Regions from separate parts of the Homo sapiens genome. Here region 1 is linked to region 2. The links come from fine-mapping of genetic effects on plasma protein levels. A gene starts in region 2. The other region holds a variant in brackets. All regions are shown on one strand. Distances are between the middles of the regions.

Region 1 (5,378 bases), 38 kb after region 2:
CCTATTGCCTCAAAAGCCGCTGGATAAAGTCAGAATAAGGAAGAGCCAGGGCAGCCCTGCAACACCCTGAAGAAAGGCAGTCCACGAGGGCTCTCATAAATTATACCGCACAAATGGTTTCACGTTATCTCTTCCTGGAGGTGAAAGGAAACAGCTGATGGTTCCGGGTCAAGTTGAGGCACCTCTGACCTCCAGCCCCCAGAGCCACAGCGCCGCCTGCTGGTGGAGCCCCGCCAGAACTGACATAGACTCGTCCAGCCTCCAGGTGCACCCACGCCCTTTTCTTGCACCAAGAAGCTGAGCAGCCTCTCTCTACTCTCTGTGACCGTCCTCTTTGGCCTCCGCATGGTTCAGCCTGGAATCCTGAAGAGTGTGAGTGAGTAAGGCGTGACAATCCTGGGTGTGGGTGGGGTTAGGGAACATTTCCTCTGAGGAATCCGTGGAACGAGCTGGCCCTGATACCTGGAAGTGACTTATGGTTGCCCTCGACTCACCCTGTGGCATCTTTCTCCAGCTGCACCGAAACCTGGATATTGCCCAGAGTTTACTCTATCCTGCCCTTTCACCCTCTTACCTGTGTGCTGCACTATAAAGCCTGCCTGGGGATCGAGAAGTATTGCTTCTTCAACTGTCAACATCAGTGTACAGAGCTTTGGTGGACTTTGGATTGAGGTAAGGAGCCCCAGATCTGCCCTTCTCGGCTGCGCCTGAAACCTTCCTGCAGAAGCATTCATCTTAGAAGGAGTTGATAACTGCCCATGCCCCTGGAAATCATTGAGATCAGATCTTTCAAGTTGGGTTGGCCCACAGATCTGCCTCGGAACAGTGAAGCGGGTGGCTCAATAGACCTCCTTGCTCAGGATATGCACTGTCCATTTCACATAAGGGGCATCACCCTTCTCTTCTGTATGAAGGGGACATTTGGACAAGATAATCTCTAAGTTGCTCAAGGGTTATTGAATTTTTATTGTTATTATTTTAGTTTTTCACGATACCTTTCACAGCACCTTTCTCTTCATATTTAAATTGTAAGGTCAGGGATTATAAATTCATTATTCCTTAGGATGGCTTGCCTAGAGTCCCTGATCCCCAGTCCCTGATTCTGGGGCAGCATATCTCAGTTTTCTGTGAAGGAGAGTACTTAGCAGGATTTCTGCCACAGTGCCCCAGGACACAAATTCATGTCTCCTGCAATGCCATGTCACCTGGCATTGACAAAGTACCAGCCAGGCTGAACCTTCCCTGAACCTTTTCACCTTCCTACATCCCTGATTCTCTCTTCTCTCTCGAGGTGGAAACTCCTTAGCCAAGCCTGAGGAGACGCTGGTGCTACAGGCTCTGATTTGGATAACTGGTCTCCAATTTGTCCATGATCTTCCCAGGCCCAAGATGTCATTTCAGAGTTAAATGCTTGTTAATATGACAAGAAGACAAAGAGATAAAGCATTGTATATTTAAAACCACAGAAAAATCTGTAAGACTGCTGGATCTCCTCTCTCTCTCCCTGTCTCTCTCTCCATCCTTTATGGCTTTTCCCTTAGGATCTGAAAAAAGGATATGATTAATATTTCACATTTAGTTAAGGACCACAAAGGTAGTAGAAGTCTGGACAAGTCTTCCAAAATTTTATTTGTAACTATTATAAACAAATTTTGAAAAGCCAATTATTCCCTAGCATGCTTTAAGTTGACATCTAACATTTTTATCATAATTGCATAATAGTTACAAAGAATAAACTTTTAAGAATATGATGAATATTGTCCTTTCATTTAAAAAGCAACCTTAATCTTTTTAATGTTTCTAACGGAATTTAATCATCTTGACTTGATAGTAATAACTATTAAGGAAAAAAAAAGCATGTTCTTTTCTCCCATCTTCTTCCTCTTCTTCTCCCTTTTTTCAACATTTCCTGAACTATTCAAACCAAAACTATAGGTGAGTAGGTTTGTTTAGGACTCACTCTGAAAAGCAGATACCTAGACAGGATTAGGTAATCAAGAGTGTGTGTCAGGGAAAATGCCTGTGAGGGACAAAGGGAGGTAGCCAAAGTGGCAAGGAGAGCATGAGACCATGATGCAGGGCTGCCTGCTCTGAGGGAGGAGAGAAGGAAGGAGGAAGAGTCTCAGAATGAATTACAACATTGGTAAAGTGCCAGTCAGGCTGAAAGACAA[C/G]GCTTGAACTGAAGTCACCTATCAGAAGAGGCCCAGGTCTCAGAATGAGCCTGCCTTAGTGTTCGGGCCTCACTCAGTCATTGGCTGGGAGTAACCTGATGGAAGCATCCATGACTTCTGCACAGACATAGTGGCAGATGCAGAGGACAGTAGCTGGGGGCATCCATCAGTTGCACACCCTGAAGCAGCAGGAGATCTAAGCAGTGCATTTCCATGCTCACCACTGTCCTCTACCTTGTGTTGCAGTTACTTCTCCAGGTATGGTGATGAAGGCTAGTTATCCCAGCTACTTGGGAGGCTGACGTGGGAGGATGGCTTGAGCCTGGAAGTCAGAGGTTGCAGTAAGGGGAGACCGCACCTCTGCATTCCAACCTGGGCGACAGAGCTAGACCCTGTCGCAAAAAAAAAAAAAAAAGAAAGAAAGAAAGAAAAAAAGAAAAAAGAAAGCTGGTTAATGTCAACTTGTTGAGTTTTTCATCTTGGCTGTCAGGGTCTAATCTATCATAGATGCTTCCCAGCAGGTGTTAATATGTAATACACAAGTCTTCACAGTAAATGTCTCCTCACATTTTGGTCCTCTTTCCCTACCACAGACATCCTTGCTACTGATTTTCTAGTCCTTTGCCTTCCAAGCTCCTTTTTAAAAAATTGGGTTTTAATATTATTTAGGTATTTAATATTATTTAGGTATGACAAAGCGAACATATCAGGAGATTACTGCCTTTTAAAAGAGAGTTTGTTATACTCACATATCTCAAAGGAGAGCCACACCTTGCCATGGGAAGGGTAGGGCAGGGGGGCACATAGAAAGCACCTTTTTCAGTCAAGAGATAGAGGGAGTGAGGGAGAAATGTGGGCAAACCTTTTCTGTGGTTCCTGCAAGAAGGAGCAGGTGAGGCAGGGTAAGTGTCTCAAGATTGGCCAGTTTGAATAATTTCAGTGATCTCTGAGGCAAAAGTACTGTCCCTAGCTGTCTCTGAGCCAGTACCATGATGTTCCCTATGGCCCCAAACCCTAGTAGACCCAGGGTCCAGCCTATCTCAGTAGACCGCAGCACTAGACTGGCCCCCAGAGACTCAGGCTCCAGGCTAGCCCCTATGGCCAGGACCCAGGACAACCCTTGTGAACCTAGCCTCCAGGCCAGCACCCACACACCCAGCCCCCAAGGTCAGCCCCAGTAAACTCAGGCTCCAGGCAGGTCCCCACAGACCCGGGCTCTAAGCCAGCACACACGTCTCCAGGAAACTGGCCAGCATCTGCAATGCCAGGATCCAGACAAGCCCCTGCAGACCCAGGAACTACAACTGCCACAACATGAGGCCAAACCCAGACTCTAGACCAGACTCTGTGTTCTCAGAGTCCAGAAGACAAAGGGTCCAGGATTGCCCTAACAGACCCAGGATCCAGGCCCATCCCAGTAGACCCAAATACCAGGCCAGTTCCCCATGCACTGAGGATCCAGTACCATCCCTGAAGACCCATGCTCAAGGTCAGACACCATGGACCCAGGACCCAGGCCCGGCCCCTTGGACTAAGGCTACAGGCCTGCTCCAGTAGACCCACGTTTCAGGCTCATCTCAGTACTTGGCCAGCCCTTTCAGACTCAGGCTCAAGGGCCACCCCAAGAGCAAGCCAGCCCCCATGGACCCAGGCTTCAGGCTAGCTCCTGTGAATACAGATTCCAGGCCCAACCCCACCCAGGTAACACGTCCACCCACCTGCTGACCCAGGCACCAGGCTAGGCTGCCCAAGCACTCAAACCTGCCCAAAGACCACACTCAATGGTCTCCCCAGAATCTCTGGACAGATTGACTGGGGAAGGGCTCTCCCAGACAAAGTCAGTCTGAAAAGCCTGGAATAAGTCCCTACTTCTTCAAATGCACAGATAGTAACATAAGGGAACAAGAAATATGAAAAATTAAAGAGATATAATGCCACCAAAAGAACACAATAATCTCCTAATAACTGACCTCAAAGAAGTGGAGAAATATAATACTGTCTGACAAGGGATTCAAACTAATTATTCTTAGGAAGCTTGATGAACTTCAAAAAATAATACTAATACAGAGAAATAATTCATGAAATCAGAAAAAGTAAATAAGAAATTTAATAGAGAGAGTAAAGCCATTTTTTAAAAGATCAAACAGACATTCTGCAGCTGAAAAATGCAATGAATGAAATTAAAAATTCAATAAAGAGCATCAGCAGCAGAATTGATCAAGCAGAAGAAAAAACCTGTAAACTCAAAGAAAAGTTATTTTAGAATATACACTCAAATGAGAAAAAAGAAAAAAAATGAAGAGTAGTGAAGAAAGATTATGAAATATCTAGGACAGCATCAAAAGAGCAAATATTCGAGTTATGGGATTTTAAGAAGAAGAGACAAAAAGGGGTAGAAAGCTTATTTAAATAAATAATAGCAGAAAACTTTCCAAATCTGGGAAAGGACATAAATATATAGGTATAGGAAGGTCAAAAGCTTTCAATAAAATTTAAACCAAACAACACTACAACAAGATAGATTACAATCAGTCTGTCAAAAATCAAAAGCAGAGAGAGGATCCTAAAAGCAGCAAGCAAAAGCACTTCACATAAGGGAATTCCAATAAGGCTAACAGTGAACTTTGCAGCAGAAACTTTAAAGACCAGGAAAGTGGAATGATATATTCACAGTGCTGAAGGAAAAAAAGTAACTGTCCTTCAGGAATGAAAGAGAAACTAAAATTGTCCAGACAAACAAAAGCTGGAGGACTTTATTGTCAAGAGACTAGTATTACAAAAAATGCTAAAGGAAGTTCATCAAGCAGAAAGAAAAAGATTTTAATAAGTAAGATGAAAACATACGAAAGTATAAAACTCACTAATAAAAGTAAGTACATAGTCAAATTCAGAATACTCTAATACTATAATGGTGGCGTGTAAATCAAATATTTTTAGTATTAAGGGTAAAACACAAAACTATTAAAAATAATAAAAGCTACAATAACTTGTCAAAGAGCACACAATATAAAAAGATGTAAGTTGTAACATTAAAAATTTTTAATGTGGGAGCCAGGGACAGTAGCTCATGCCTATAATCCCAGCTACTCAGGAGACTGAAGCAGGAAAATCACTTGAGCCCAGGACTTTGAGACAAGCCTGGGCAATGTAGCAAGACCCCATCTTTTAAAAAGCTGGGACAGGGTGGAATCAAAGTGTAGAGTTTTC
Region 2 (5,378 bases):
TCCTTTCTATGTGGTGTTGAAAAGATATAGATTCCTGGGAAACATTAATGAGAAGGAAGTGGGGAGCTGTAGTTGCAGCCATAAGGGTTGGCTGGTCACACTGGTAAGGCCGACAGTAGCCAGGTCAGGACTGATGGTGGATTGGAAAAAAAAGACCTGCTTATGGTTTATGTAATGTTTATTTATTTTTTGTGTTTTGTGTTTTTCCTGGTCCTTGGCCAAAGGCAAGATTTCCATATTTCCATTTCCTGGTGAAAAGGAGCTGGCAGCACTGGGGCTGATTATTGGATTTGTAATATGAAGCCCTAGCAATGTGCCTCCTGTTTCCTCCCCCCGCCCTGCTCTCTTTCACCATGGGACCGTTTCCCCTCTTCACTGGAGAGAAGAAGTCCCAATTCTACATCCATTTCCCCAAAGCATCCAGGAGCCCAGAAGTCATAGGAACCAGAAACAAGTGGAGCAGAAGGAACTCTTTATTGGAAAGTGGATGAGAGAGGCAGCTCCAGCCGTGGGCATCCTGAATGGGAGGAAGAATGGACAGTGTGGGAAGGGGAAGGGCAGCAGGGACTTAGGACCAGATGGGGCCTGTAGCTCTGGGGACGGCACAGGTGCAGCAAGGACCGGCTCCCTCTGTGGAAGAGAAGAGTATCAGAGGTGAGAGTCAGCACATCAAAGCACTCAGAGGCAGTGAGGAAGACAGATCATCCTTCTAGGCACTCTGGTTATAGCCTCTCAGACCCCTCAGTCTCCCAGTCTTTCTGTCACCTCCCACAACCTCCCTCCCACCAACCTGGGATGCTTCCCCACCGCTCAGCCTTCTTTTGTGTCTTCAGGGGTCTCCTCGTTCTCCAGCTAGTGCTCACCTCACTGGGGAACGAAACAGGCCATCCCGCAAGAGCCTTCACAGCACTTCTTGATTCCTGGGCAGTCAGTATCTTTCAAGCAGCGGTTAGGGGGATTCAACATGGCGCACCGGATCAAGATAATGGGGCAGGAGCCAGGCTTAGTGGAGACTGGACCTTTGACTGGCTCTTGCGCTTTGACTTTATCTTGACCTTTAACTGAAACTTGTCCTTTAACGGGATCTTGTCCATTGAATGGAACACGGCCTTTGACAGTGTCTTGACCTTTAACAGGAACTGTTAAAAGAAGAAACGAGCCCACATTTATACCCAGTAAGCCTCTGCTTCAGCTGCCATGTCTTTCCTCTGGGTCTGGGTCCATCCACTGCTTACTGCAGCATCCTCAAACCATGGCCTGAGTAGGGAAGGTACACCTCTGGGAGCTACACTCTTGGAAGGCTCTTCCTTTTTTGGGGTGGTCTACTGGACCAGAGTTCCCTTGAGTATTTGTTTCTTCCCCCTTCCTCCACTCCAAGTCTCTCAGGAGCAGTGGTCAGACTGGGGTGACACCCAGCAGTGAAGAGGACACATTGTCATTTGTTAGGAAGTGCATTGGAGTAGGAAAGAACCCTGAGCCACATACTAGGAGACTTGAGCCCCATCCTGGCTCTGGGAATTACCTTGGCAATTGCTCACTCATTTCTACATTTTTGGTTCCCTCCTTATAAAATGGGGGTCCTCAAACAACATGATTCCTGAAGGCTTGTTGTTTCTTAACCTCCTTTTAGAGTACTGATTACTCCAGTGCTTTTATGGGGCAGAGAAACGGGGGACTGTGTCCACACCCAAGGTTTAAAATCCTGGAGTTCATTATTTTATTGCACATTCTGCACAGGTATTGACATCTGAGGCCAAGGCCACATACCAACATTACTTCCACAAACAGTCCTGATATCTCAGTCACTGAGGTGGAAAGCACGTGGAGTCCACCAGCCAAAGTCCTATTTTTTCTGAATATGATGGCAAAGAACAGAAAGCTGAAATCTGGGCTCCAGTGCTGCCTACTGCTTCAGAAGTGCTCCCTGTCCTGGCCCAGGGTGTCCCAGAGGGTCTCCCCTTAGTCCAACCCAGCCCAGCAGGTCACCTGTTCACTCACCTCCCGTGACAGCTGCCTCTAGAACCAGCGTCCCAGCGATGAGGAACACCACCACGATCAAGAAGCTGCTGGCCCTCATGGTGTCAGGAAGGTGTTTGGCTAAGAGCTAAGGCCATACCAATCTTTATGCAGTCCAGCTTGGCCTGGCTCCAGGGGCGGGTCTGTGGTATTTACAAGGGATAATTCCTTAGCTGTATTGGGAAATATCCACCCCATTCTGGGAGGGACCTGGGGGCTTTCCCTCAGGATTATTCACAGGAAGAACTAATGGACATTACATCACATCATCTCTGATTGTCCCAAGAGTTTTCCTACTTTCTCACAGAGTAGAAGTGCTGGCTCACTTATTAGGTAACATTACAATGAAATTCTTCATGTTTTGAAATACAGTGAGACCCAAGAAGAGAAAGGAATCACCGAAGGTTATTCAGCAAGTCACTGGTAGATCCAGTCTTGATTACAAAACCAAGGTGTTTCTCCATTATGCTCTGGTGCTACAAACCCCACCCAGATCTACTTTATCATTTTACCACTCCCAGCATCAAACTGGGCATTTCCTTCCTTCTTCCCTGGTCCTGCAAAAAACTCTGTAAGACAAATTTGCCTTGAATACATAATGACTAATTATTGCACTTTGCTGTTTCAGAGACGGCCTTTCAGATGCATCAAGAAAGTAATTGGAAGGTGGAATTCTAGGTCTGAAGAGGGATGATGCCCTTGAAATCACAGTGGTAGGGAGAAAATAATCAGAAAGTAGTAGAAAACATGTATCATGTATACATTGGACATCTACAGTGTGTGTGTCCAGCATGCCTCCCCACTTCTTTGAACAGCACCCTGTTTCTTGTGAAGAATTGTTGTCTCTTTGAACCATCAACTTGTGAGTCTAATGGGGACTGCTAATCATGAAAGCCTGACCCCTGACCACAGGTAGGGGTGTGTGTGTGTGTGTGTGTGTGTGAGTGTGTGTGTGTGTGTTGTGTGTGAGACTTGGTCTGGTCTATTAACATATTTTATTTGAATGAGTAATGAAAGGGGAAAACGGGGGTTCCTTCTTCTGGAAAAGGTGATATATATGAACCAGGGAATTCCAGAAGTGGTTATCTAAGTCTGGGGGTGGAGATCAATTGTCTGAGAAAAACGACTCTAATACACTGAGACAAGGAGAGAAGTGATGGTGAGAGAAGATTCAGATGACACAGCCAGGTTTCCCTCCTTTACCTTGAGAGCAGTTCTTCACACACCCTTCTCATGGTTGGGTTATGAGGCAATAAATTAGCCCTCTGCTTCAGCTAGTCTGACTTACTATTCTGTCATTGTTACCAAAAGTTCTGAGTAATAGAAATGAATATCCTGAAGTTGGGTATTGTCAGGGACAGAATCTGAGTTAAGAAAGTCACTGAGTTGAGGTGGAGTTAAGGCAGGGAAGGTAACAAACTAATTATTGGACACTAATTCAGCTGGTGAAATCCCCACCCCTTGTCGATTTAGACTCTGACCACATGCCCACCAAGCCTGAAACTGAGGGAGACATAAACGAATGTCAGACTGTGGAAGCCTTTGGCTACCTTACACAAAAGCTCATTGTACAATAAGCCATACAAACAAATAAAAAGCTCACAGAAAATACCTATATTCTTTAAAGAATAGCATTAAAATGAGCTGCCAGGTAAAGGAGGAGAATATTTGCTATATCTATGCTCCATGCCTCTCCTCAGTTGCTTCATTCTCCTTCCTCCCCAGAGATAACTGCTTCCTAAGATTTTATGGTAATTAGCCCTTGCTTTCCTTTATAGTTATGCCACTTCTGTCTGTATTCTGAAATATATATTCAGTTTAGTATACTTTTTCAATTTGTATGTAAATGAAATCTAAGGTATAGTGTTCATATGTCCTGCTTATGTTGCTCAACATTATATTTTTGAGAGTCATCCATTTTGAAGTCTACACCTGTAGTTCATCATTTTCACTGCTGTACAGTATTCTATGAAAAATACCAAAAATGTTATATATTCATTCTACTGTCAATATACATTGGATATTTCTAGGTTTTAGCTATTATAGTGTTGCTATGAATATTCTTGTACATATCTCTTGCAGAACATAGGTATGCATTTATTTTGGATATATGGTTAGGAATGGAATTGCTGGATCACAGAGTACAGATCACAGAGTATAGATACATCCAGCTGTCATAAATACTGCAATCAATTTTCCAACATCATTGTACCAATTCACACTGCTATCAGCAATGTGTGAGCATTCCATTTGCTCCATAATCTCACCAATGCCTCATATGATTTGCCTTTTCATTAGCCATTCAGGTGGACATCTTGTGGGATTTCCTGTGATTTGAATTTACACTTTCCTAATAACTGGTGAAGCTGACCCATTTTTAATACTCCTTTTTTTTTTTTTTTTTTTTTTGAGATGGAATTTCGCTCTTGTCACCCAGGCTGGAGTTCAATGGCACAATCTCAGCTCACTGCAACCTCCACCTCCCAGGTTCAAGTGATTCTCTTGCCTCAGCCTCCCAAGTAGCTGGGATTACAGGCACATGCCACCATGCCCAGCTAATTTTTATATTTTGCAGTTTCACCATGTTGGTCAGGCTTGTCTCGAACCGCTGACCTCAGATGATGCACCTGCCTTGGCCTCCCAAAGTGCTAGGATTACAGACATGAGCCACTGCACCCGGCCCATTTTTAATATTTCTATTATCCATTTGGCTATCCTCTTTTGTGAAGTGCCAATTCAAGTATCTTACCTTTTATTTACTTATTTATTTAATTTCAACTTTTATTTTAGATTTGAATGGGTTGTTTATCTTTTCTTATTGATTTGTAGTAGAAAAGAAACTTTTATGCATTACTAATGAGAGTCTATATTGGTGAAACATTTAAAAACAGTTTGACATCAGCTAGTAAAATTGAATGTGTACACAATCTATAATTCAGCAATTGCACTCCTAAAGATTTAATTAAGGAAAATATTTCCACATGTTTACCAAGAAACATGCACAATAATGTTCATAAAAGTACTGTTTTTAACAATAACATACTGGAAACAGTCCATGTTACCAATACTAAAATACTGGATAAATATGTCATGACATATTAATGCATAAATATGTCATGACATATTAATGCAAGGAAGTATTATACAATTATGAAAATAACTGAATTACAGCCATGCACAATATGACCATAATTAAAATAATGTTGAATAAACAACACAAGTCCACAGTGACAATATTTAGAATTACCCACTTGTCATAAAACTCAAATGAAGGAGAACTGGGAAATATATTGCCTAGGCATATTTACATATGAAGCAAAGCTCAAAAAGGGATACATAAAAAATGAAAAAACTATAAAAAT

Which allele goes with the higher level. Positions count from the first base shown, and alleles are read on the strand shown. Strength reflects both the effect of a copy and how common the allele is.
In carriers of allele C in region 1, the plasma level of the protein whose gene starts at base 2,098 in region 2 tends to be lower than with G alone (weak association).

Evidence for each region. A credible set is the group of variants that fine-mapping cannot tell apart. PIP is the chance, under the fine-mapping model, that this variant and not a neighbour inherited with it causes the effect. Protein levels are from antibody-based Olink assays in UK Biobank. Linkage for the fine-mapping came from a reference panel and not from the study's own genotypes, which makes the PIPs less certain.
Region 1: its variant is the best candidate, but not a certain one, in a credible set for the plasma level of the PI3 protein (UK Biobank, PIP 0.55).

Annotation. Positions count from the first base shown.
Region 1 is chr20:45,133,811-45,139,188 of GRCh38, reverse strand. It overlaps LOC101929863 (a long non-coding RNA gene), which reads left to right and starts at 160. Exons shown (of 3, transcript XR_936751.3): 1 at 160-372; 2 at 515-672; 3 at 1,292-1,751. RefSeq lists an enhancer at 287-346. The variant C/G (reference allele first, on the strand shown) is at 2,172.
Region 2 is chr20:45,171,622-45,176,999 of GRCh38, reverse strand. It overlaps PI3 (peptidase inhibitor 3), which reads right to left and starts at 2,098. Exons shown (of 3, transcript NM_002638.4): 1 at 1,999-2,098; 2 at 864-1,139; 3 at 456-630. The coding sequence starts at 2,077. The coding sequence ends at 865. RefSeq lists an enhancer at 1,309-2,508.